Homo sapiens: one gene and its partners. The protein of the gene in region 6 purifies or fractionates together with the protein of the main gene of each other region. This does not show direct contact. Each region holds a gene or a part of one and is shown on either strand. Other genes may lie near its edges.

What was found.
Region 1: the proteins of NUP160 (region 6) and PPP2R5E fractionate together in Homo sapiens (co-fractionation; one large-scale study listed by BioGRID). This does not show direct contact.
Region 2: the proteins of NUP160 (region 6) and NPTN purify together in Homo sapiens (co-immunoprecipitation; one large-scale study listed by IntAct). This does not show direct contact.
Region 3: the proteins of NUP160 (region 6) and VSIG1 purify together in Homo sapiens (co-immunoprecipitation; one large-scale study listed by IntAct). This does not show direct contact.
Region 4: the proteins of NUP160 (region 6) and CD226 purify together in Homo sapiens (co-immunoprecipitation; one large-scale study listed by IntAct). This does not show direct contact.
Region 5: the proteins of NUP160 (region 6) and URM1 purify together in Homo sapiens (co-immunoprecipitation; one study listed by IntAct). This does not show direct contact.
Region 7: the proteins of NUP160 (region 6) and RIC3 purify together in Homo sapiens (co-immunoprecipitation; one large-scale study listed by IntAct). This does not show direct contact.

What each region holds. Positions count from the first base shown.
Region 1 is NC_000014.9:63,533,378-63,536,877, forward strand, and holds part of PPP2R5E (serine/threonine-protein phosphatase 2A 56 kDa regulatory subunit epsilon isoform), read right to left. Parts: intron 1-3,500. UniProt on the Homo sapiens protein: The B regulatory subunit might modulate substrate selectivity and catalytic activity, and might also direct the localization of the catalytic enzyme to a particular subcellular compartment.
Region 2 is NC_000015.10:73,563,890-73,567,389, forward strand, and holds part of NPTN (neuroplastin isoform b precursor), read right to left. Parts: exon of another isoform or gene 3,049-3,500; intron 1-3,048. UniProt on the Homo sapiens protein: Probable homophilic and heterophilic cell adhesion molecule involved in long term potentiation at hippocampal excitatory synapses through activation of p38MAPK. May also regulate neurite outgrowth by activating the FGFR1 signaling pathway.
Region 3 is NC_000023.11:108,062,065-108,065,564, reverse strand, and holds part of VSIG1 (V-set and immunoglobulin domain-containing protein 1 isoform 2 precursor), read right to left. Parts: intron 856-3,500; coding exon of another isoform or gene 778-855; intron 1-777.
Region 4 is NC_000018.10:69,888,874-69,892,373, forward strand, and holds part of CD226 (CD226 antigen isoform a precursor), read right to left. Parts: intron 1-3,500.
Region 5 is NC_000009.12:128,381,374-128,384,873, reverse strand, and holds part of URM1 (ubiquitin-related modifier 1), read right to left. Parts: intron 1-3,500. UniProt on the Homo sapiens protein: Acts as a sulfur carrier required for 2-thiolation of mcm(5)S(2)U at tRNA wobble positions of cytosolic tRNA(Lys), tRNA(Glu) and tRNA(Gln). Serves as sulfur donor in tRNA 2-thiolation reaction by being thiocarboxylated (-COSH) at its C-terminus by MOCS3.
Region 6 is NC_000011.10:47,838,351-47,841,850, reverse strand, and holds part of NUP160 (nuclear pore complex protein Nup160), read left to right. Parts: intron 1-163; exon of another isoform or gene 164-607; intron 608-1,262; coding exon 1,263-1,473; coding exon of another isoform or gene 1,474-1,623; exon of another isoform or gene 1,624-1,785; coding exon 1,786-2,008; exon of another isoform or gene 2,009-2,350; intron 2,351-3,500. UniProt on the Homo sapiens protein: Functions as a component of the nuclear pore complex (NPC). Involved in poly(A)+ RNA transport.
Region 7 is NC_000011.10:8,113,526-8,117,025, forward strand, and holds part of RIC3 (protein RIC-3 isoform a precursor), read right to left. Parts: intron 1-3,500. UniProt on the Homo sapiens protein: Molecular chaperone which facilitates proper subunit assembly and surface trafficking of alpha-7 (CHRNA7) and alpha-8 (CHRNA8) nicotinic acetylcholine receptors.

The DNA of each region.
Region 1 (3,500 bases), on a different chromosome or scaffold from region 6:
ATGGAGAAACCCCATCTCTACTAAAAATACAAAATTAGCCGGGCATGGAGGCGCATGCCTGTAATCCCAGCTACTTGGGAGGCTGAGGCAGGAAAATGGCTTGAACCCGGAAGGCAGAGGCTGTGGTGAGCCGAGATCGCACCATTACACTCCAGCCTGGGCAACAAGAGCTAAACTCCGTCTAGTCATCATAGTTGTAAGAATATCTAAAAGTGAATGTACAAACTATCTGCAAAATGCCTCGGAAATGTATAATGAATTGTGAGACAAGAAATAACAATGGCGGCCGGGCGCGGTGGCTCATGCCAAGAATCCCAGCACTTTGGGAGGCCTAGGCAGGCGGACGCACCTGTGGTCAGGAGTTCGAGACCAGCCTGGCCAACATGGAGAAACCCCGTCTCTACTAAAAATATAAAAATCAGCCGGATGTGGTGGCAGACACCTGTAATCCCAGCTACTCTCCGCAGGCTGAGGCAGGAGAATCACTTGAACCTGGGAGGCAGAGGTTGCAGTGAGCCGAGATTGCGCCACTGCACTCCAGCCTGGGTGACAGAGCGAGACTCTGTCTCAGAAAAACAAACAAACAAAAGAAATAACAATGCTACTTTCACTATAATTCCATCTTCAAAGAGGCAGTATTCTTCAGAAAACGTTCACCCAAATCTAAACTTACAGAATTGCTTAAAGTCAACGCAAGGAAATGAGGCACAGGAGGCTGGGGTGAGGAGAGAACATAAATCACCCAGCCAGGTGCTACTACCACTGATTATTATTAACATAAATTTGTGTGTGTGTTTGTGTGTTTGCCTAACTGTTTAGTTTGACTGTCTTACTCAACAACTTACCTAGATAACAGTCAAGGCTTGCTTCATGTCCTGCTGTGTAAGTGTAAGGAAAGTATCCAAGTCTTGACTTTCTTTTTTTTTTTAAGACAGAGTTTATAGTGGCACAATATGAGCTCACTGCAACCTCCACCTCCCGGGGTCAAGTGATTCTCCTGCCTCAGCCTCCTGAGTAGCTGGGATTATAGATGCACACCACTACATCCACGAATTTTTGGATTTTTAGCAGAGATGGGGTTTTACCCTGTTGGCCAGGCTGGTCTCAAACTCTTGACCTCAAATGACCCGCCCCCTGTCGGCCTCCCCCAAGATTTTACTTTCTTATCAAGTAAGTAAGGCACTAAACCTCTACTAGGTTTTCCCTATCAGTGAATGAGTAAGAATCTTTTAGACTCAAAGAAAAAAATGTTTTTATTTTGAGACAAAGGTCTCACTCTGTCAGCCACACTGGACACAGTGGAACAATCACAGCTCACTGCAGCCTCAGCCTCCTGGGCTCGGGCAATCCTTCTGCCTCAGCCTCCCAAGTAGCTGGGACCACAGGTGTACACCACCACCCTGGCTAATTTTTTAAATTATTTGTACAGATGAGGTCTCACTATGTTGCGTAGGCTGGTCTCAAACTCTTGGGCTTAAGCGAGCCTCCCAACTCTGTCTCCCTATGTGCTGGGATTATAGGTGTGAGCCACCATACCCAGCCTCAAAAATGTTAAGGCTCTCCAAGAACACTTTCACAAAAGCATATAAAGATGGAGAAAATGTAAATGTCTATCTTTGCAAAGTTCATCCTATAATTTCCTAACACACAGATACGGAAAAACCAGGTAGATTTATACAGAATTACAGGTGGTGTTGCTTTCTACAGGAAATAACATCAGTGATACAGATTTCAAAACCCCACCTATTAGACATAGGGCAAAATAGGCTGGGCGCAGTGACTGACGCCTGTAATCCCAGCACTTTGGGAGGCCAAGGCAGGTGGATCACCTGAGGTCAGGAGTTTGAGACCAGCCTGGCTGGTCTCAACACGTCTCTACTAAAAATACAAAAAAATTAGCTTGGTGTGGTGGTGGGCACCTGCAATCCCAGCTACTCAGGAGCCTGAGGCAAGAGAATCACTTGAACCAAGAGGCAGAGGTTGCAGTGAGCTGAGATCGCACCACTGTACTCCAGCCTGGGCAACAAGAGCAAAACTCCATCTCAAAAAAAAAAGAAATAGGGCAAAACAAAAACTTTCCCTTCACATTATGTTGCAGTTTTGCAAGTGAACAGACTTTAAAACGCTAAGAATTAATGCAGTATTATTTATAAATCAAAGATTATGATGCATATAATAAACATTCTGATAATGCATGCACAAAACGAGTGGTTATTAATGCATATCTGAGCATTCAAAAATGACATATTAAAAGATGAGTTACATAATCACTGTTTGTATAATTATCGTATTCAAACTCCCCTGAAATTAAAGACCTTAAGGACACCTCTTTGACTTCATTATTTAAAACAACTCACAAAATTCAACCATATTTTATATTGTACTCCAAATAAAATTAACCCAATTTAGTCAAAGCAATACTATAGAAAATTAAATCAATAACTACCCTTAGCATGCATATAGTGTTTATCCTGGTTTCTCTTAAGGCAATGGCCAAAAAAAATAAAATCCTAGAAAAGAAATTCCTCCTACATTTTCTTTATATTCCATAAATTACTTCCTAGAAAATCAAGAGCAAATACACATTACTGAAGTCTATTTCTGATTATACTTCCTTATGTTATTCTACAGACAGAGATGGATTTCTAATTTATAGAATACTTTCCAGAGTATTTACCCAGAATGTGCTTACTACATAACAATCACTGTTAGTCACTCTGGAATTAGGTTTGTGAGTATATAGTCCTGTTACTCTCCAATTCTCTCATACTGGCAAAATATACAAGTTCAAAAAATCACATTCTTGGAAAGCAGAGTTCTTGGAAAACTGGCAACACTAGCAGACTTCACTTTTAAAAGTGAGAAAAAGGATACAGAAATGGCCAAAAAGCACAGGAAAAGATGCTCAACATCACTAATCATTAGGGCAATGCAAATAAAAATCACACTGAAATACCACTTCATACCTATTATAATGACTACTATCAAAAAATTAAAAAGCAGAAAATGAGTGATGGTGAGGATATAGAAAACTGGAACCCTCATGCATTGCTAATGGGAATGAAAAATGGTCCAGTTGCTGTGGCAATATGTATGGCAATTCCTGAAAAATTCAACATATGATCCAGCAATTACACGTCTGGGTACATACCCAAAAGAAATGAAAGCCAGAACTTAAACAGGTATCTGTACATCATGGTCACAGCAGCATTATTCACAATAGCCTGAAGGTGGAAGCAACCCAAGTGTCCACCAATGAATTAATGGATTAAAAAGTATATGGTATGTATATACACTGAAATTATTCAGCCTTAAAAAAGAATGAAATTCTGACACCTGCTACAACAGAGATGAACACTGAAGACACTTGACTAAGTGAAATAAGCCAGTCACAAAAAGACAAATATTGCATGGCATCACTTATAGGAGGTACCTAGAGTAGTCAAATTCATAGAAACAAAAAACAGAATGGCGGTTGCCAAGGGCTGGTGGGGGAAACA
Region 2 (3,500 bases), on a different chromosome or scaffold from region 6:
CTGTGACACACCGAGGAAAGCTGAACAGTGGTGACATCCCTCTAGAAAAGACTTCAGAAAGACAGGCTCACTCCTGTGCCCTGGCCAAAACCAGAAGCCAAACCCAGGGGAGCCATGAGATAACTTTTTTAAAATCAAAAAGCTGACATTATATGAGTTTAAGCCTTCTTAAATTGATACTTTATGATTCTGATTTATAAGTCTTTCGTGTTTCAACTAAGTGCAACTTGATCCCCTTTAAGCAGAGATACACATTCACAGAGAGAGAATGTTTTAAAAAGACCCACAAGGGGAAGGGAACAAGTAAGTGCTCTTAGTTTGTTTTTATTATACAAAAGTCAGGTAAACTAAATGATTCAGAACAGTTTGATTTCACTGAAGGCTTCTAGAAAAATTCTCAGCAGGATTCCACAAGGGGGCTTGGTGCACATGAAGCAGTTATGGAGATTACAGTCTCAGTGTAGGCATCTGCAGGAGCACATGTCGGGAGTAATGTCTGTCAGAGGGAGACATTGCTCCACCTGTTCCTTCGAGGCAACGGAGAGGCAAAGCCACCGCCAGCACACACAGTGACTGGAGCAAAAAAGGATTTCAAAAAAAAGAACTAACCACAAACCAATGACTCATCAGCCAAAACAATAGGCTAGCGACACACTAGTGTCCACAGGAGTCCACTACTAACAACAGTATACACTATCAAACGGGTACAGAGAACAAACTAAGACTTAAGGACACCCAAGACATCTGTGTGCTGTGTATGCAGTGGAGAGATACAAAGACATACCAGGTACTAAGACACAAAAGCCCAGCCTAAATTCTCCCCTCACAACATCCTAATGCTCAGCATCCCGGCCAAGCCAGCTCAGCTACATGCTAGGAACTAAGCACTTTGGGGATTTAAATGAAAAGACATAGGAGCAAACTTGGAATACTTTTAGTGCTCTGGCTGTGCACTCGAAAATACAAAATTCTAATGCAAGAGAGCCGAATCAAGAATACACCAATCTACTCCCAAATTTAAAATAAAAAGCAGGGGAGGGAGAATCGCAATAGCCAGGCTAATCTTTTCAAAGCATGACACTGTAGGCACCAACCCAAGCACCTCACACCACGGGCTGTTTTTCCTTTTGGAGTGTGGGTATTCCCTGGTGTCTGATTAGTAATGTCACTTTCCAGCCCAACAAGCTGGTAACATGCAAAGGGTTGCATGGAGGTGTTTTAGCGACAGTGCCTCCGGCATAGCTGCCATGCCTGCAAGTGGGAGCAGTTGAGATTCACAAGGGGGCAAAATCCCAGGAGCCCTCTTCATCTGTCTCCCCAAATCCACTTTCACACTGACAAACAAAAGAGCCTCATGTCTCCCCACTCTCCTGGACTGAATCACTATCTGCAGCACCACTCTCCCCTACAGGTCAGACAAAAAAACGACTTGACCCCTAACAGGGAAGTCAGGGGAGAGGGAAAGAACAGAATTACAGAAAAAAGATACAGAAACCAAAGTAAATGAGGATTAAACAGCAAACTGAAATCCAAATTAGTTGTGAAAGTGAATGAAGTAAACTTGAAGAAAAGTGTTAACATTATGAACTGTGCATCGTATAGACTGAAGCGGAGATTAAACAAACTCCAAAAGCATGCATATCGCTCACTTACCACCATGTTTTAAGGGTTTGATGCAATTGAGGGGGGAAAAAAAAGAAGTCATAGTAACCGACAAATATCAACATACCCCAAACCCTCAGGCCAAAAGATAGCCAGCTTAAACAATGACTGTTCTCTCCACCTCAGTATTACAGCCACTGGCTAGATGAGAGGAAGAGGACTGGGGGGATAATGGAAACAAGATGCTTCTGGAATCCACCTTATGAGAGTGAAGTTACCGGTGGAACTGTAGCACACACTGATTTATCTGCGTGTTCCATCTTCCCAACCGAATGGACCACAGCCCTCACTCCCCCTATATCCGCCTCATCATCTAGAAGGGGTGCTCTGCAATGTCTAGTAAATAACGGATTGCCTAATACAATATCACCTCCAAAAAGATGGCTTTAAAGTCCGAATAATGAAGAGTTGACTCTCTGGTCAAAGGTCCTTTGTCACTGCATTCATCTCACTAGAAGGTTTTATGGTTTCTAAATCCACTTAAATTTTGCCTGACCTTAGCAGGTTAGCATTAAACCCAAGAGAGACTGAGTTACTTCCTATTTCCTTCCTTGTTTGGTCCTATTGCATTTTCTCCATGAGGTAACTTGTTATTGACCCAGATGGCCCCTAGTTAACAGACCAGACACCGAATGCATGTTTTAGGTGTCATTTTAAAAGTCACATTTCTTTTCCAATATCCCTAGTCTGTATAAAGCTTCATATGCTACCAAATGTTTTGACCAACGAATAGATTTTGGAACATTAGAACAGCTCTTCATTCTAAAGTGTCTAAAAGAGCTTGGATATATCAGAGCCACTAAAAATGGCCCCCCAAAAAACCTCAAATATCTTCTCCATCAGTAACTTAAAGAGAGTCCCTTTGACTTGCTTATAAAAAATTATCCCAAGGTAAAAACAGAAAGTTCTTTTTTGGTACCAGCACTTCTTTTCTTAAATCAGCTCCTGTTTTAATTTGCTGTCTGTGAGGTCACTAAAATATCCAGAAGAACTGCAGGCCTCAGCAACTAAGTGGGTTCACTCCCCATTCCTCCAGGGCCTGGGGAGGGGAGACTCAGGAGCACAGGCTGACTGCTCCTGGAGTGCAGTCCGCAGGACACCAACACAGAAGGTGCACCCAAGCAGGTGCCCAGCTGTGACATGGATGGAAGCCTAGAGGCTGCTAGCTTGACCTGGTCTTTTTAGAGAACTATCATTTAACATTTTCAGGGAATACAGTCAAGTGGTGAGTCAAGTGAACAAAACAAAGCTCTTATTTGACTCCATGATTCACTTGTTCCTGAAAATACTGAAGGTAAAGGTGATCTGTAGATTAGTCCACCTACAAGACAACCTAGTGGGCACTGATCCTCAAAGAGACCATACAGGGGACTAAAGGAATGCAGGTGGGTGTTTTCATGTAGGAAATGGTCTGAGAATACTCCAGTAGGTAAAGAAAAAAGACATGGGGCTTTTTTTTTTTTTTTTTTTTTAAAGGAAGCAGCTAAACCTCAATCCTAAGCATTTTCAATGTGAGAAATCTAAATATTTGATTTTCTAGTGAAACATACTTAAACTAAACTATGTAAGTTCAAATTTGTGCTTTTATACTTTTGTATTGTTCACTTAGTGCTTTTGTAGTAAGGGGATGAGTTACCAAGAACTCACAGACTGCCCAAAATATGACGACTGTGCATTCATATAAAAAAAGTTCAGTGAGTCTGAAATGAGCCATGGGTGTATCTTGATAATAAAGTGCTATTTGGCAAAGTAGAAGTATGGCAGGCCTATAAAAAAATTCCCATTTTCCTAATGGTATAAAAAAAATCCAACACAGAGCCACAGATGGTTATCTGATA
Region 3 (3,500 bases), on a different chromosome or scaffold from region 6:
AGGTAATTCCTGAGGTCCCTTCATAATACACACCTTCTATGTACATGTTTTGTTGGTTTCATGTAAATGTATATTATTCAAGTGATTGTTATTGTTCAATAAACTGTATTGTCTTAGTCTGGTGAGACTAATTTTTCATAAAATCTACTGGAAGGCCTTACAGTTCATTTAATTCACTTCCCTCAGTTTACAGAAGAAACCAAAGCCCAGAGAGGTTAAAAAATAAAAGGCAAAATTGACGGTTGAGACAGATCTGGAATCCAATTTTCCTAATTCCTTGTACTGTGGGCTTTACCTTAACAGGCCAATAAAAGAGGGAAAGCAATTAGAAAACCAAAAGATATTGTCTAGATGAATTCAAATGTATTCTCCTTTAAGCAGAAAGTCAATATATTTTAAAACTAAGGCAGAAAGCTGGATTTTGAGGGAAAAATCCCAGGAAAAGAGTACATTTACAGAGAAAACTATTTGTTTCTCTCCCGTTTTTTCTAACATCAACGTGTTTTCTTGCTTGCATTATAAATGCAGCCATTTATAATTCATTCATTCACACCTACTGAAATCACAAACTCTTGCCCCAGAATGGTCTTGTTTGACTTCCAAACCAGAAAGCCAGGATTAACTCCAGGTATTCAAGTGGGACAGAAGGAGGTTCAATACATCAGAGGATTACTTTCATTTGAGTTGGCACCCACGCTATCAGGCTTTCAATTTCACTAGGCAGCATGGGGCTTATTTACTTTCTAATTGACAGTTTGAGGTCTTGTTGTTTCTTACCTGGAGTTCAGCCTGCTGTCCATCAAGAGTGCCCTTCACAGCCTCAACATCTGGCCACTTCCCCTCCTCCCAAGGAGACTGTGGACAGTGTAAAACATCAGCCCTGTTTTATACTGATGCTTGATGACATCACAATGAGATACAACATCAGTCACGCCTGAGGCCCACAGCAAGTCCCAGAGGATCCAGGTGAAAAGGACCTTATTTCTGCAGAGATCTTGAGGCCAAAATGGTGTGTTTTAGGCCAGAATTAGGATATGAGAAGAAGTAAAAGTGTCCACTGTATCCATGTGTCCATGCCCACTGTAAAAGTCCCATAGTTGGGCATGAGTCAAGGTGAAATGAGTATATAAGCAATGAGGCCCTGGAACCTTACCCATGAAAAAGACCTTTACTACCTCTTACATGCTAGCTCCTCATGCTGTAGTCTAATACATTTTGCCCTCTCACGATTGACACTAAAAGGTATTAGAGACAGAAATGGGGGTAGTGAGGGCTAACAATGGAGACCTAAAAGAGCCAAGGCTTTGGCTTCACAGTTCTCTGTAAGAAGTAAAGTACCTAGGGGTAGACAGCAGCAGCCAGACACATACATGGAGGGGCTTTCTGTTAAGGGGAAGTCCACACAGTCACACTGTCCTTGTAAAGAAAAAAAGAAAGAAGTGTTTTCCTGAAACTGCTTATCTAATCATATAGGAAGGGCTACAACTTGATTCCACTTTCCATAAAAGAATAACTCTTTTAAAAATCAAAGCTGAACAGTGGCCAAAGCCTGGCCCATGATCCTGTGTGGCTTGTACACTTTTCAAAGAAAGAATATTATCAATTTAGACGTCAAAGCAATGGAGATCCAGAAAAAGCCCCGGATGTACAATGGGCCACATCTTTGGGTGGAGGTGGGGAGGAGGTGATTTTTTTAAGGAAATCCATCCCAGTGTTCCCTTAAGGGGCGCTTGTTAATTTTTTACCCACCTGCACTTTGTGCTTGGGTTCATGGTAGACTGCCCTGCTTTCTCCCAAGGTCCTCTCTGCCTGCCCCCAGGGTGACGCTAGAGGCTGATGGGTGGAGTCATAATTGCACATTAATTATAAGACCTCTGTGAGATAGTTTGGTTTGTGGTTTCTAAGGTTAAGGGGCCTTCAGGAGCCCGATGGATATTGGAAATATGGGAAATGGCTGGGAGGGGCTGGTAAGTAGTGGTAAGCTCATAACAGATATGGGGACTGCAGGGAACGGAAAAGTCAACGCAAACAAGGCATTCGAACTGTTGAAACAAACAAACAAAATACTGGGCAGGCCGACTGAAATACATCCACTGGCCAAATCTGACCCAGAGGCCTGCGGTTAGTAAACTCGAATTCATCCTTTTCTAATACAAAAAAAGGACACCGAGGCCTCAATAGAGGGAGCCATTTTCCCAAGGTCACACAATTTACAGTCAGACCTGGAATTCAGACCTTCTGATTCCCACTGAATATATTAAGATGGCACTCACAGTGCTTCTTAAGATGAGAAAGATGATTCCTGGGCAACCTTCTCCTTTTGGGACCATTCCATTCCCTGCTCCAGCCCAACCTTTCTCCTGCCAATTGTTGCTATTTATTGGCATGATGCTTCCCATGCTGAGTATGTTCACCACATGATGCCCTCAATATTTGCCAGCTGCAATTGTAGGCCCCTCAGTTCTTTGCAGAGCAACCTTTCCCTTCCTACTGTGCCAAGTTCCTATTCACACAAGGCCGTGCAGCTGGGAACCAGATTTGTCCTAAAAGACTTTTTCCTCAGCTTAGTGACACTGCTCTCTAACTAGAAGCATGGAGTATAAACAAGAAGGGTTGAAAGAATTCAGTCTGCTTTCTGTTTGAATCTGAGTTGGAGTTAGCTTCCAGAGCTGCTTTTGCAGATTCCTTCTGGGAAGGTGGAGGACATGGACATCCACAGCAAACCACCCATTCTTTCCTTTCCAGCTTCTTGCTTTCTTGTACTGCTGATAGAGGGGCTAGCCATAGGATAGGGAAGGGGTGTGCAGGTATAAGGTGGCAATGGTCACAAGCTCAGAATTTTATTTGGACTGTATTGTGGTGCAGGGATGGCATGTGGAAGGAATGGGATACCAAAAGAAAGACTCTCTTGCTTCCAAACCAACTCTCTTACCAACCCTCCATTTGCCTGGGTATCTGCCATTTGAGTTGCTCCTTTTGGAAGAAGGCATGGAAGGTCCCATTCAATGCATTCTTTAGAAGAGAATAAAATAAGCTTTCGCTAGTCCCTAACACCTTACCATGAGATTAATTTATCAGATTTAGCAGAAAGTGAATGGGACACAATACATAAATTTGATGGTGGGGTGGGGAAGAACTTGCAGTATTTCTCAGTAGGGGTGACACTGGCATTTTGGGCAGACAACTCTTTATTGTGTGGCTCTGTCCTGTGTATTTCAGGTTGTAAAACCTGAGAAGCCAGAGAACATAAGAACACTAGGTCCTGGGAAAGAAGTTGTCTAAGTTGTTTATGAGACTGGCAAAGGGTATTTTTTCACTATGAACATTCTTGAAGAATAAGTATTGTCTGAGAGATTCATGCTAAGCAGAGTCAAGGCATGGTCTGTTCAGGGACAGGTGGGGTCTCTGTAGTGTTAGCATTAACAGACTGGATGGAAGATGAAGCCATCTGTGTGACCAGAAAGGCACCAGACCACCCCAAATTTCCATGTTAGCCTGCC
Region 4 (3,500 bases), on a different chromosome or scaffold from region 6:
AATAACTTATCACTATTATTCAATATCTTACTTATCTATACAATAATAGTATGTATAAAAAATGACTGCAGGCAAACATTCTAGGTTTTTGTGTGTTCAAAAAATGAATAGATCAATACTAGGGCTTACAAAACAAATTAACTGACCGGTTGCATTTTTTTGAATGCAATAGATCATTAAAAAAAATGATCTGGGCAGAGGCAACAGTAAAGTAAAGATTCAACCACATAATAGCCATGATTGAGTAATCAACTCACTTGTGATGCTGGAAACTATGTTTCATCTGGATACCCAGTTTCACCGAGAAAACTAAATTGGGCTGAAAATTGTGGTTGATCTGTTTGAGTAGAGGTTATTTTAGCTTGTGAGCAGTGACACGGTGCTCTGGGATTCTGGTCGTGTTGCTCCATCATATAAATTAACTGTCATGGACATTTTACTTTCCATGTAGGTAAAGATAATAAAAGGCTGAGGTTCACCACACAATGTCATGGAAAGGGACATATCTGTCAGCCCAGTGCACACCAGTTCAGACAATCCTCATGTCCACAAGCTTTATATCTATTCTAAATTCATAGGAGTGGGACAGAAGGTTCTGGATTAATGGAATCCTTAAAAAAAAAAAAAAACTGTCTTGTCTACAACCTGAAACTCTTCTGGAATCCAAATGGACTGGGAGCAAACTGGTTGGTTTTTGACAGAAATAAAAGGCCAAGGAAATAAGCAAAATTTATTTCCTTTCTTCAATAATTTTATAATCCAACTCAGGAGCACAGAGTCTCAAAGTCAGTAACCTCCCACAAGCCATCTACAGGCAAGATTTATAATCTGTATAAATAAGATGTATCATCTATATACGGATGTATTTATAACTTACAGCACTCTATTCCCCTGTCCTTCCTCCTTGTCAATCCTATACCTCACATCGTCCCAGAGGAAATATCTGGGAAGATTCTCTTAGCTGTGGCACTATGATTTCCTAGTGAATAGTTTTGTAATCTTAATTTACTAATCCCATCCTTCTATTCAGATGACCAGCAATTATGTGCCACTTATATTAAAAATTCAAAATAAGAAAATGAAAGTTAAAAAAGTAAATAGCCCTATCTGAAAGTTATATATGTAAACAAGAGTTCATGAAAGTTTTTTCTCCAATCACTGTAGTTGATCTTTTGAAAGTTCAGTTTCTTTGATCAACAATCAGTAAACCTCAAAGGTTAAACGTTGAAGAAAAAAAATCTGGAAAGAAAAGAGGTAGAAAACTTAAAATTAAAATGGACACAGCCCCTACTAGAATGAATAGAAACATTAACATAATCGGTCAAGAACACTTACTGGGCATATTCTGAAAAGATGCTTTGACAACTTTAAGCAGATGCCATAATCCTTAATCTCAATTAATTTCTGATAACCAGAGTTTGGAACATTACAAATAGATGCAGGCCAGGTGTGGTGGTTCACACTACCAATCCCAGCACTTTAGGAGGCTGAGGCAGGGGATTGCTTGAGCCCAGGACCATCCTTGAAACCCCATCTCTACCAAAAATACAAAAATTAGCCAGTCTCATAACCCGGTCTCAAAAAATAAATAAATAAATAAATACAAATAGATGGAAGTTAATAAGTCACTCGAGGGTAGCAATTTTCAGACTATAAAAGTTTGAGAAATCCAAGATGCTTAATATTTCAATGATGGGGAAGCAGTTTGGTCTGATGTGGAAAAAAACATAGACATTGAGACGGCTGAAACTCTATAGGAAAGAAAGCAAATGTGATGGAAACTTAGTCAGTTAGAAAAAGGAGAAAGTAGGAAAGTGTGAGTGTTTTGAGGCAGTGGAAAGCACAAACTGAGATTCAAATCATGCTGACAGTATCTCTCTACCCTGTGTAGGACACCTTTGTGCCTACAAAGGTAGGTGGATCAGTGGCCTATGACCCATCACTGATCCCAGGACCAGGTGGCTTCACAGATGAATTCTATCAAACATTCTAGGAATTAATGCCAATCCTGAGTTTAGAAACAGTTCTACATTATCATGTGTAATCAATAAATGATTTAATTCTTTTTTAAAAAAAGAAGCAGTTCTAAACTCAGTTTATGAGACCAGCATCACCCTGATACCAAAACCAGACAAAGACACCACAAAAAAAAAAAAAAAACCTACAGGCTGACATCCCTAATGAACACAGATGAAAAAATCCTCAACAAAATACTAGCAAACTAAATTCACCATCACATTAAATGGATTGTATATTCTAATCAATTCTGATTTATCCCTGGCATGCAAAGATGGTTCAACATATGTAAATCAATCAATGTAATACACCACATTAACAAAGTGATATAAAAAGGCCACATGATCATCAAAATAGAGCATAAAAAGCATTTGACAAATTCAACATCCTTGTGTGATTAAAAAAAAAAAACTCTCAACAAATTAGGTACAGAAAGAATTTACCCCAACACAATAAAGGCCATCTATGAAAAGCCCACAGCTAACATCATACCAAGTCATGTAAGACTGAGAACTTTTGCTCTAAGATCAGGAAAAAGACAAAGGTGGCCACTTTCAACACCTCTGCTTAACATAGTACAAGAAGTCTTAATCAGAGCCATTAAACAAGAAAAAGAAAACAAAAGGCATTCAAATCAGAAAGGAAGAAGTAATATTATCTCTGTTTGCCGATGACATAATCATATATGTATAAAACCCTAAAAGTGCCACAAAAAAACCTGTTCAAACTAATAAATGAATTCAGTTAAGAGGCAGGATACAAAAATCAACATATAAAATATCAGTCAGGTTTCTGTACACAAACAGCAAACTATCCAAAAAAGGAATTAAAACAAAATCCCATCCCCAATAACAATAAAAGGAATAAAGTATTTAAGAATAAACTTAACCAAAAATGTTAAAGACTTGCACACTGAAAATCATATAGCAACTTATTCTTTCATGATTATTGTTTTGCCATCTTTGCTCAAGAACTAATGGTAGCTTTGCTTGACAATTATATGAGATGCAGGTTTTCACTGTCATCACTTAATTTAACCTACCTCGTCCCATATTAATACATAACTTAGACTCTCCATACCAACCTAGTCATTTGACTACAGTCTCCCATGCACCATCTCCCCATTCCTCCTGCATATTTGGGGTTACTCTTCATAACCTGTTTCATGTCATTCCTCAGCTCTAATCATCAATGCCTCATTTGAACCTTGATGGTCCCGCCTGAGTGGTCTCACTGGTGGAAGACGATTATACAAGGACATGAGTAATTATACTTATCAATAGCAAACAGAAGTTTTTTCAATATTAGCCTCCTCCAGAAACTTTCTGCAAGAGCTGATTTTATTTCTTTTGCCTTCATTCTTTTTATAGCCAATAAGGTCAGTTTAAACAATAGTAGTCTGCAAATCATTTAGCTAATATTAAAATATTTGACAAATTATTTTAGTGGCACCTAAAATACTTCTCTTATGACAAATGAAAATC
Region 5 (3,500 bases), on a different chromosome or scaffold from region 6:
CCTGGAGTCAGACAGGCCTGGTTTTGAGCTGGACTCCATCACTTACTAGTTCTATTACCTTAGGTAATAGGAAGCCTCGGCTTCCTTTTTTTGTAAAATGGGGATGTTAACATTGTCTCATAGGGTCATTGTGGGGGATCAAATAAGACGATATATACAAAGCTCTCAGCACTGTGCCCTGCATATCAATGCTGTAATTACTCCAGGATCCAGAGGAAGAACCTATACCCCTCGCGCTCTCTGGGTTTCTGCACGCTCTGCCCAGTGGCCTGGCACCTCAGCTTTAGAGGGCAAGGTAGAGCCAACCATTAATCAGATAGTGCTGGGACCGGCTGGGGTTTTCTGTGGCATCCCGTATCTTCCCATCAGAAGCTGGAAAGGGAATGAGGGGACTGCGAGAGTAGTGAGGGGTCCTAGATACTGACCTTCCTTCTGTGTTAGATGTTTGAACCCACAAGATGTTGGGGTTGGCCAATGCTCCCAGTACAACCCAGGTGGTAGGAATGACACTCTGAGTCTGTAGGTGCTGGCGGCCAGGCTGCCCCCGGGCACACAGCACCAGAGGAAGGAGATGGGCACTTAATACAAGGTTTCCAGTGCAGGATACCTTGGCACCTGGCCTGCCCATCGGGGGCAGAGCAGGCAATGAGAGCTGCTGCTCTATGCTGGAGTGGTTGAGTTCTGAGTCTACAGCCAGAGGACCTCGGCTGTGTGCTCGATGGCCTTAGCTAGGAAGTCACTTCATCTTGCTGTCTCAGTGTCATCCTCTGACAAGCAGGGATAATAATCCAAACACCAAGAGCTGCTGAGGATTACGTAAGGCACAATGCCCAAGGCAGGCCTGGCAGTGTCACACACACAGGACACGCTCAACAGATGGCTGCTCTGAGCTGTAAGCCCACAGTGACTTCAGATTCCTCATCCTCTGGGCTCCAGTACCTTCTAAAGGCTGCTGCCAAAGGGAGGATACCCACTGTGGAGAGCACCGACGCAAGCTCCACCAGAATCCCTCGCCCCGGTGGACTTGTCCTATTCTGGGGGACACTGACTGCCCACTGTGGGAGGGCCCCAAAGGGTGTCAGCCTCAGCCTCGTGGGACTGAAACGGAACAACCTCAAAGTCGTATCTGATATTGACTCGCAGGCGTAACAGACCCTCATCCAGCCTCTCTTTGAACACCTCCAGGGACAGGAGGTCAGCTCCTCTGTGGAGCGGCTCTGATTGTTAAGAGCTCTTTTCTCCCAAGCAGAAATCTGTCTTCCTGTCATTCCCACCCACTGGGCCTGAATGGTCCACGGGGACCATGCCAACAAATGCACCCCCTCTTCCCCAGGATGGCCCTTCAGATTTGGAAGAAAGGATCCCCTAAGTCTTCTCTTCCACAGGTTAAACTGCCTCTGTCCCCACCAAGTCCACCAGGCTCCAAGACGGCTCTTCGGAGAGCCCACCCCAGGCCTCAGTTGAAAAGGGAAAAGAAAGAGCTGGCAAGGGGGGAGTAACAGAGGAGAGGGGGTGGAGGGAACATCAGAGGGGCCATTTACAAGTGAATGGGGGTAAGAATGGAGCAGTTTGTGGGCTAAACTGGCCTCAGAAGGAGGTTTACAGATGTGCGAGGGGACCTCCTCATTGTTTAATTAAGCAGAAAGTGGATCTTTTCAAAAGCAATTTTGCACAGGGACTGGGAGGGGTGTGGGGAGGAGGGAGGTGGAGAGGGGATCAGCAAACAGGCCCTGAGAGCAGAGAAAGGAACAGCTGGCCCCAGAGAGGCTGTGAAATGCATGCTAAGCAGTTTAAAGCGCCCAGGAGCTCCTGCAGCTCCTGCCCTCCCTCACCAGCCACCCTTTAACACAAGTGGAGCAGGCAGAGGGGGCACAAAGGCAGGACAGGGGAAGACAGGCAGGGAAAGGTGAGGCGGCCATGTCTACACTTGGGGCCTGGGCAGGGGGCCTTGGGTCAAAGGGATGCTTGAATCACAGAGGCCAACTCCCAGCAGCCGCAATACCCTAAGCTGGTGGGTGCCTGCATGGCCGTTTCAGCGAGATGGCTGTTAAGACATCCCTTCTCTCACACAACTTCTTACTGGGTCAGCACACTCTGCTTCACCGAATTGTATATACTTGGATCTTGAAGAAACTTTTCTTATAGATGTCAAAGAGACAACCAGCTCAATAACATACAGAGCGAGCCCAACCTCCCATCTTACAGATAGGGAAGAAAGAGTCTGGCAGGAATAAGTGATGTGCAACTGCGCGTGCCAGGCTTCCTCTCTCGCAGTCTCACTCCCTCAGGCCTTGCTCATCATTTCTCCCAAATTGGCTGGGTTGGAAGCTCTCCCCTGGCCTAGGAGCCACGAGTTCCCTCATTTGTGAGGCTTGTCACATTCTGAAATCTTACGGCTGCTATTATTTCTGCTGGAACCTCCAAGACTCGCTTGGCCAAGTGGCAGCCCCTAGGCTGGGAAGTCTGCCAGATGACATATCTGGGCATGGACTTGGGGGAAGGGTAAGACTCTCCTAGCAGCACCAGGCCCCTGACCCCCAGCTGGGCTCACATGTGCCAGGGTGAGGCCTGGCAGCTGCTAACCAGCTCTGTTGGTGACCTAGGTCACCAACCTAGGTTACCATGGGTCTGCTGTGTGACCCATGCCTCTGGGCACAACAGGAACCAGGTGTAGGGACTCACAGCAAAGGAGCCAAAGACTAAGTGGGCCATTGTGCCTTCCCTCCCACTCCCCTCCTTTCTTCCCAGAGTGGGGATAGGCCCCTGCCTGTTCCCTGAACAGTGGCTGGAAGATGAAGGATAAAAAAATCTGAGTCCCAGCCCAGCCTCCCTACTTGGGTAACTCTGGGCAGGCCTCAGGTCCCTCCCTCCTTCTCTTTCTCTTTTAGGGGTCTCTTATCTCTTGGGGTCATCTGAAAGTTGAAATAAGTAGTTGTTGAACTCATGAATAAATAAATGAAGGAAAGCGTAAAAACTGGAAAATGTAAGATGTTAGAGTAATTCAGGGAGCCTCTTGGGATAGACGGTGATGGGTTAGTGGCAAAGCGCCAGGACTCTGAAATTCAGTGGCCTGAAAGCTAGTTCTGAATCCCAACCCTGCTATTTAAATAACTCTATGACTTGGGGTGAGACCCCTGACTTCTCTAAATTTTGGTTTCTACCTTTTATTTGTTTTGTTTTTTGTTTTTGAGACGGAGTCTTGCTCTGCGCCCAGGCTGGAGTGCAGTGGCACGATCTCGGCTCACTATACAACCTCCACCTCCAGGGTTCAAGCGATTCTCCTGCCTCAACCTGGGATTACAGGTGCCCACCACCATGCCCAGCTATTTTTGTATTTTTAGTAGAGACAGGGTTTCACCATGTTGGCCTGGCTGGTCTCTAACTCCAGACCTCAGGTGATCCGCCTACCTTGGCCTCCCAAAGTGCTGGGATTACAGGAGTGAGCCACTGCACCTGGCCTTGGTATGTTACCTCCTTAAAGAGACCTCTGCTGACCACCT
Region 6 (3,500 bases):
CCAGGTGTGGTGGTGCACACCTGTAGTCCCAGCTGCTGAGGAGGTTGAGGTGGGAGGATTGCCTGAGCCCAGGAGTTCGAGGCTGTAGTGAGCTATGATTGCACCACTGCACCCCAGCCTGACAGAGTGAGACCCTGTCTCAAAAAAAAAACAAACAAACAAACAAAAATTATCAGATGGTACATGCTCCTTAGAGCCCTCAATCTCTCGAACTAGAGCACGTTCCAGGATCACATGGCCTTCCTTGTAACACTGGCTGTCTTCGGTGGCAAACTCGTAGATCCATCCCAGTTTGCTGCTGCAGTTTTTCAGCTCACATGTTGGACCATGTGGTGGCCAGTGAGCATGACCCAATCTAGAGCTTCATTGTACTGCAGGTTCACTACCTTGTTAAAAAGAAATGCTCTGCCAGTGGCGCCTGTGAACCAAGTGGAGATGAATTCTGAGCGGTTGGTCAGGATTGTATCACAGTTTGCATAAGAAAATGGACAGGTACCACGAATATGATCAAGGAAAATTCTGCCCATTTTTATGGCTGAAGTTCTAAAAACCCTGTGCAGCAGTGAGATCTGTGGCTGCCAGTGGCTCCTTGCTCCTCAGCTGGGATTAATAAACAAGCTCCTTTTGGGGAGGGTGGGGGAAAAAAGAAAAAAATAAATAAACAAGCTCCTTTTGAGGAGTAATAATGAAAGTTAGAATAGCTTAGTATAGAAACTAACCCTGATATGTTCAATTTGCGAAGGTATTTTTATATTAAAATATTTATTTTTGTAATATTTTTGCACATACATGTAAGCGCATGTATAAAATTGCTATTCTGTGTGTGTGTGTGTATATGTGTGCGCATGCATGCTATTGCAGGTTAAGAAGTAATAGAAACAGGAAATAACCGCAATTATTAAGGTCAGTTTTGTTTGATGCTGTAGTATATATGGAGGCCACATTCCACTACAAGCAATGGCCGGGGTATGGTGTTAATTTTTATTATAGTAGAGTTAATTGCATAAAATATTGTCCTAAATAAATGGCCTATCAAGTTTGGAAATGTCTCTATGTAACAGAATCACAGTGAAATTTGGATTTTGTTATGCTGTTTTTTATAAATGTACATAATGTGATTTGGCATGCAAAAGTGGTCCAAATCTGTTTATCCAAAATTTTCAAATTTGGTGAGTTCACTTGGACACTGTTCTCATATATTTCAGTAGAACAGTCAGTGAGAAAAGCATAAACTTTTCAAACAAATGTCTCTTTTTCAACAGGAAGACCTCTGGAGATACATTGGAGCTGATGGAGGAGTCACTGGACATAAATCTGTTGAATAATGCCATTCGCCTAAAATTCCAAAATTGCAGTGTTTTACCTGGAGGGGTTTATGTCTCTGAGACTCAGAATCGTGTGATAATCTTGATGTTAACCAATCAAACAGTGCACAGGTTACTTTTACCACACCCCTCCCGGATGTATAGGAGTGTAAGTTGGCTAAGTGCAATATCTTTTATTTCCCAAATTACTCTGGGTGTCACAAATGTAGTGCTGGAGCGATGTCTTTTGGAATTGAAGGAAATTTGGATTCTCGTTATCCCTCACCAAGCATACTTTGATAGCTACCGCTTAAAATGATCAGGCATACATTTTAAGTTGAGAATTAGTTTTCATTAAGAAGAATAGCTTTCTTAAACTTGACAGTTTTTTACTTTAAAAACTTTTTTAGCAATAGAGAGGAACTGAGCAAAATTCTGGTTATTTTGATTTAATAGATTTTTCTTTTTAATTACTCAACAGGAGTTGGTAGTTGACAGTCAGATGCAGTCAATATTCACTGACATTGGAAAAGTTGATTTCACAGATCCTTGCAACTATCAGTTAATTCCAGCAGTACCTGGAATATCTCCTAATTCCACCGCCTCTACAGCCTGGCTCAGCAGTGATGGGGAGGCCCTGTTTGCCTTACCATGTGCTTCTGGGGGAATCTTTGTTCTTAAGCTACCTCCTTATGACATACCTGGTAAGAATGGGAACTGAGCATGGATTTAACTTTAAACAAGGAATGTTAACATTGAAACAGTTCAACCTCGTCATCCAATGCAGGGATTGCATCTCTACTGCCCCGGAACTGGTCATTCATTATTGCTTGCCTAATGAGTCCCTAATGCTTTACTTTTATACAGTGGATAAGGAACTATAAAGCATATTGGAGCACGGAAAAACAAATAGACAAGTATAAGACAGCCTATTCTAAATCTTGTAGTAGAGATGGGTTGCCTAATTGTCTGCCCTGAGATGGAGGCATTATAACATTATAATTAAATTAATTGAAACAAAGACATTAAATACCCTGCACCAAGTTGCCACTGTGTCTTGCCTGGATTATTGTATTAGCTTTCTATATATCTCCCCAGATCTGTCTTAACCCTCTTCAGACACTTCTCAGGTGGACTGATATATTTAAAACCCAAGGGCCAGGCGCTGTGGCTCACGTCTATAATCCCAGCACTGTGGGAGGCCAAGGCAGGTGGGTCACCTGAGGTTGGGAGTTGGAGATCAACCTGACCAACATGGAGAAACCCCGTCTCTACTAAAAATACAAAATTAGCTGGGCATGGTGGCCCATGCCTGTAATCCCAGCTACTCGGGAGGCTGAGGCAAGAGAATCGCTTGAACCCAAGAGGTGGAGGTTGCGATAAGCCAAGATCGTGCCATTGCACTCCAGCCTGGGCAACAAGAGCGAAACTCCATCTCAAAAAGAAAAACCCAAGTTGGGTCATGTCACTGCACTGTGTAAAGCCGTCCTTTATGTAGTGCAGTGACATGACACAACTTTTCTTTTATTCTTTTTTTTTTTTTGAGATGGGATTTCTCTCTGTCGCCCAGGCTGGAGTACAGTGGCATGATCTCAGCTCACTGCAATCTCCACCTCCTGGGTTCAAGCGATTCTCCTGCATCAGTCTCCTGAGCAGCTGGGATTACAGGCATTTGCCACCATACCCAGCTAATTTTTGTATTTTTAGTAGAGACAGGGTTTCACCATGTTAGCCAGGCTGGTCTCGAACTCCTGACCTTGTGATCTGCCCACCTCAGCCTCCCAAAGTGTTGGGATTACAGGCTTGAGCCACCGCACCTGGCCTTTCTTTCTTTCTTTTGAGACAGAGTCTCACTGTCACCCAGGCTGGAATGCAGTGGTGCCATCTTGGCTCACTGCAACCTCCGCCCCCCCCAGGTTCAAGTGATTCTCATGTCTCAGCCTCCCAAGTAGCTGGAATTACAGGTGTCCACCACCACACCTGGCTAATTTTTGAATTTTTAGTAGAGATGGGGTTTTGCCACATTGACTAGGCTGGTCTCGAACTCCTGACCTCAAGTGATCCGCCTGCCTCAGCTTCCCAAAGTGCTGGGATTACAGGTGTGAGCCACGGCACCTGGCCAACATGACCCAAGGTGGGATTCAAATATATCATGTTATGCTGAATAAACCCAGAGTCCTTACACTGGCCTAGAGT
Region 7 (3,500 bases), about 40 Mb from region 6:
GCCCAGTGCCAAATTGGCACCCCAATGGCACCCAAATTGGAGCCTGCAGACACAGGCTCCAGGCCTGCCCAGTGCCAGGCTAGTCTCTATGACCACCCCCACCTTCAGGTTGGCCCCTGCATTCCCACAATCCAGCAGACCCTGGGTCTAGCCCAACCCAGTAGACCCCAGCATTGGGCCGGCCCTCAGAACCCCAGGACTGCCCCTATGGACCTAGGTTCTAGGCTGAGGCCTGTGGCCCCAGGACCCAAGCCAGCCCTAATGAACCTAGCCTTCAGACACATCCATCAGACTCAGCCTCCAGGCCCATTTCAGTGGACCCGGGCACCAGGTTCATCCTAGCACCTGGCCAATCTCTGAAGACCCAGGCTCAAGGCCCAGTCCAGCCCCAGGTCAGCCCTTGTGGACCTAGGCTTTGGGATAGCCTCTCTGCACAAGATACAAGCACCAGGTCCATGCCTGAGGATCCAATCAACAGGTACACCCCAGTGGATCCAGGCTTCAACCCCAACCCCACGGACTCAACACCAGGCCACCCTGCCTAAGGACTCTACCAGCAAGTCTACCTGCAGATCACACCAAATGGCCTACCCAGAATCTCTGGGCAGGCTGACTGGTGAATGGCTTTTCCGGACAAAGCCAGAATGCAAAAACCATTCACCAGCAAAAGTCCCTGCTTCTTCAAATGCACAGATACCAATGCATAGCCATGAGGATCAAGAACAATCAAGGAAACATGTTGCCACCAATGAACAAAATAAAGCACCAGGAACAGACTCTAAAGAAATGAAGATACGGCCGGGCGTGATGGCTCACGCTTGTAATCTCACACACTTTAGGAGGCCAAGACAAATGGATCACCTGAGGTTAGGAGTTCAAAACCAACCTGGCCAACATGGTAAAATCCTATCTCTACTAAAAATACAAAAAATTAGCCGGGCGTGGTGGCAGGCGCCTGTAATTCCAGCTACTCAGGAGGCTGAGGCAGAAGAATCGCTTGAACCCAGGAGGCAGAGGTTCCAGTGAGCCAAGATCAAGCCATTGCACTCCAGCCTGGGCAACAAGAACAAAACTCCATCTCAAAAAAAAAAAAAGAAAGAAAGAAAGAAAAAGAAGACACATGAACTGCCTGACAAAGAATTCAAGATAACTGTTTTAAGGAAACTCAGCGAACTTCAAGAAAATACAGAGAAACAATTAAAGGAAACCAGGAAAACAATAAATAACTAAAACAAAAAATTTACGAGAGATTGAAATTATATTAAAAAAATCAAACAGAAATTCTACAGCTGAAAAATACGAGAATTGAAATGAAAAATGCAATAGAGAGTATCAACAGCAGAACTGATTGAGCAAAAGAATGAACCTTTGAATCTAAAGACAGATTATTTGACAATATACAGTTGGATGAGAAAAAAAGAATGAAAAGAAAGCAAGCTTATGGGATTTATGGGAACTGGAGTTCAAGAAGGAGGAGACGGACACAAAGGGATAGAAAGCTTAAAGAAATAATAGCAGAAAACTATACAAATCTGGGGAAAGTTATAAATATCTGGGTACAAGAAGGTCAAAAGTCTCCAATCAGACTGAACTCAAGTAAGACTATATCAAGAAGTATTATAATCAAACTATCAAAAATCAAAGACAGAGAGGATGCTGGAAGCAGCAAAAGAAAAAAAGTACATCACATTATAAGGGAGTTCTAACAGATTTATCAGCAGAAACCTTAAAGGCCAGAAAAGAGTGGGATAATATATTCAAAATGCTTACGGAAAACAAAAACAAAAACAAAAAAAAAAAAGGTCAACCAAGAATATTGTAGTTGGCAAAGCTCTCCTTCAGAAATGAGGAAAAAACAAAGACTCTGCCAGACAAAAGCTGAAGGAGCTTATCCCCACAAGATCTATCTTATAAAAAATGCTCAAGGGTGTTCTTCAAGTAGAGAGCAAGGGACACTATTCAGTAACACAAATATACATATATATATATATGAAAGTATAGGCTAGGTGCGGTGGCTAACGCCTGTAATCCCAGCACTTTGGGAGGCTGTGACAGGTGGATCACCTGAGGTCAGGAGTTCGAGACCAGCCTGACCAACATGGTGAAACTCCACCTCTACTAAAAATACAAAATTAGCTCGGCATGGTGGTGCATGCCTGTAATCCCAGCTACTTGGGAGGCTGAAATGAAAACTATAAAACATTGATGAAAGAAATTGAAGAAGACACAAATAAAATGAAAAGATGTCCCGTTTATGGATTGGAAGAATTGATACTGCTATAATGTCCATACTATACAAAGCAATCTACAGATTTAATACAATCCCTATCAAAATTTCAATGACAATTTTCACAGAAATAGAAGAAACAATTCTAAAATTCATATGGAACCACAAAAGACCCCAAATGGCCAAAGCAATTGTGAACAAAAAGAACAAAGCCAGAGGCATCACAGTACCTGATTCCCAAATCTACTACAAAGCTATAGTAATCAAAACAGTATGTTACTGGCATAAAAACAGACACACAGACTGATGGAACAGAATAAAAGCCCAGAAATAAATCCACATATTTATGGTCAATTTTTTTAAACAAAGATGCCAAAAAATAAAACACACACACACACAGGTCAAAGGACAAACACAAAAAGGTCAAAGGACAATCTCTTCAATAAATGGTGTGGGGAAACTAGATATCCACATGCAAAACAGTGAAATTAGACCCTCATCTCACACCTCACATTTACAAAAATCAACTCAAAATGCACTGAAGACTTAAACATAAGACCTGAAGCTGTAAAACTACTAGAAGAAAACCTAGGGAAAAAGCTCCATGACATTGGTCTGGACAATGATATTTTTGGATATGACACCAAAAGCCCATGCAACAAAAGTGAAAATAGACAAATGGGATTACTGAAAGTTTCTGTACAGCAAAGGAAACAACAGTAAAGAGACAATCTATGTAATGGGAGAAAATATTTGCAAACCATATATTTGATAATGGGTTAATATGCAAAATATATAAGGAACTCAACTCCACAGCAAAAGAAAACCCAATTTAAAAATGGGCAAAGGATATAAATAGACACTTCTCAAGAGAAGACAGAAAAATAGTCAACAGGCATATGAGAAAGTGCTCAACATCATTAAACATTCAAGAAATGAAAATTTAAACCACAATATCACCACATCTGTTAGAATGGCTATTATCAAAAAGACAAAAGGCAATAATAAGTGTCAGCAAGGATGTAGAGAAAAGGGAACCCTTATATACTATTGCTGGGAATGTAAACTAGTACAGTCACTATGGAAAACAGTATACTGGCTCCTCAACAAATTAAAAATAGAACTATCATATGATCCAGTAATCCCACTACTGGATATATATCCAAAAGATAAGAAATCAGTATGTCAAAAAGATATCTGCACTCCCATGTTCACTGCAGCATTATTCACAATAGCCACACTATAGCATCAATCTGAACATCCATGAATGGAT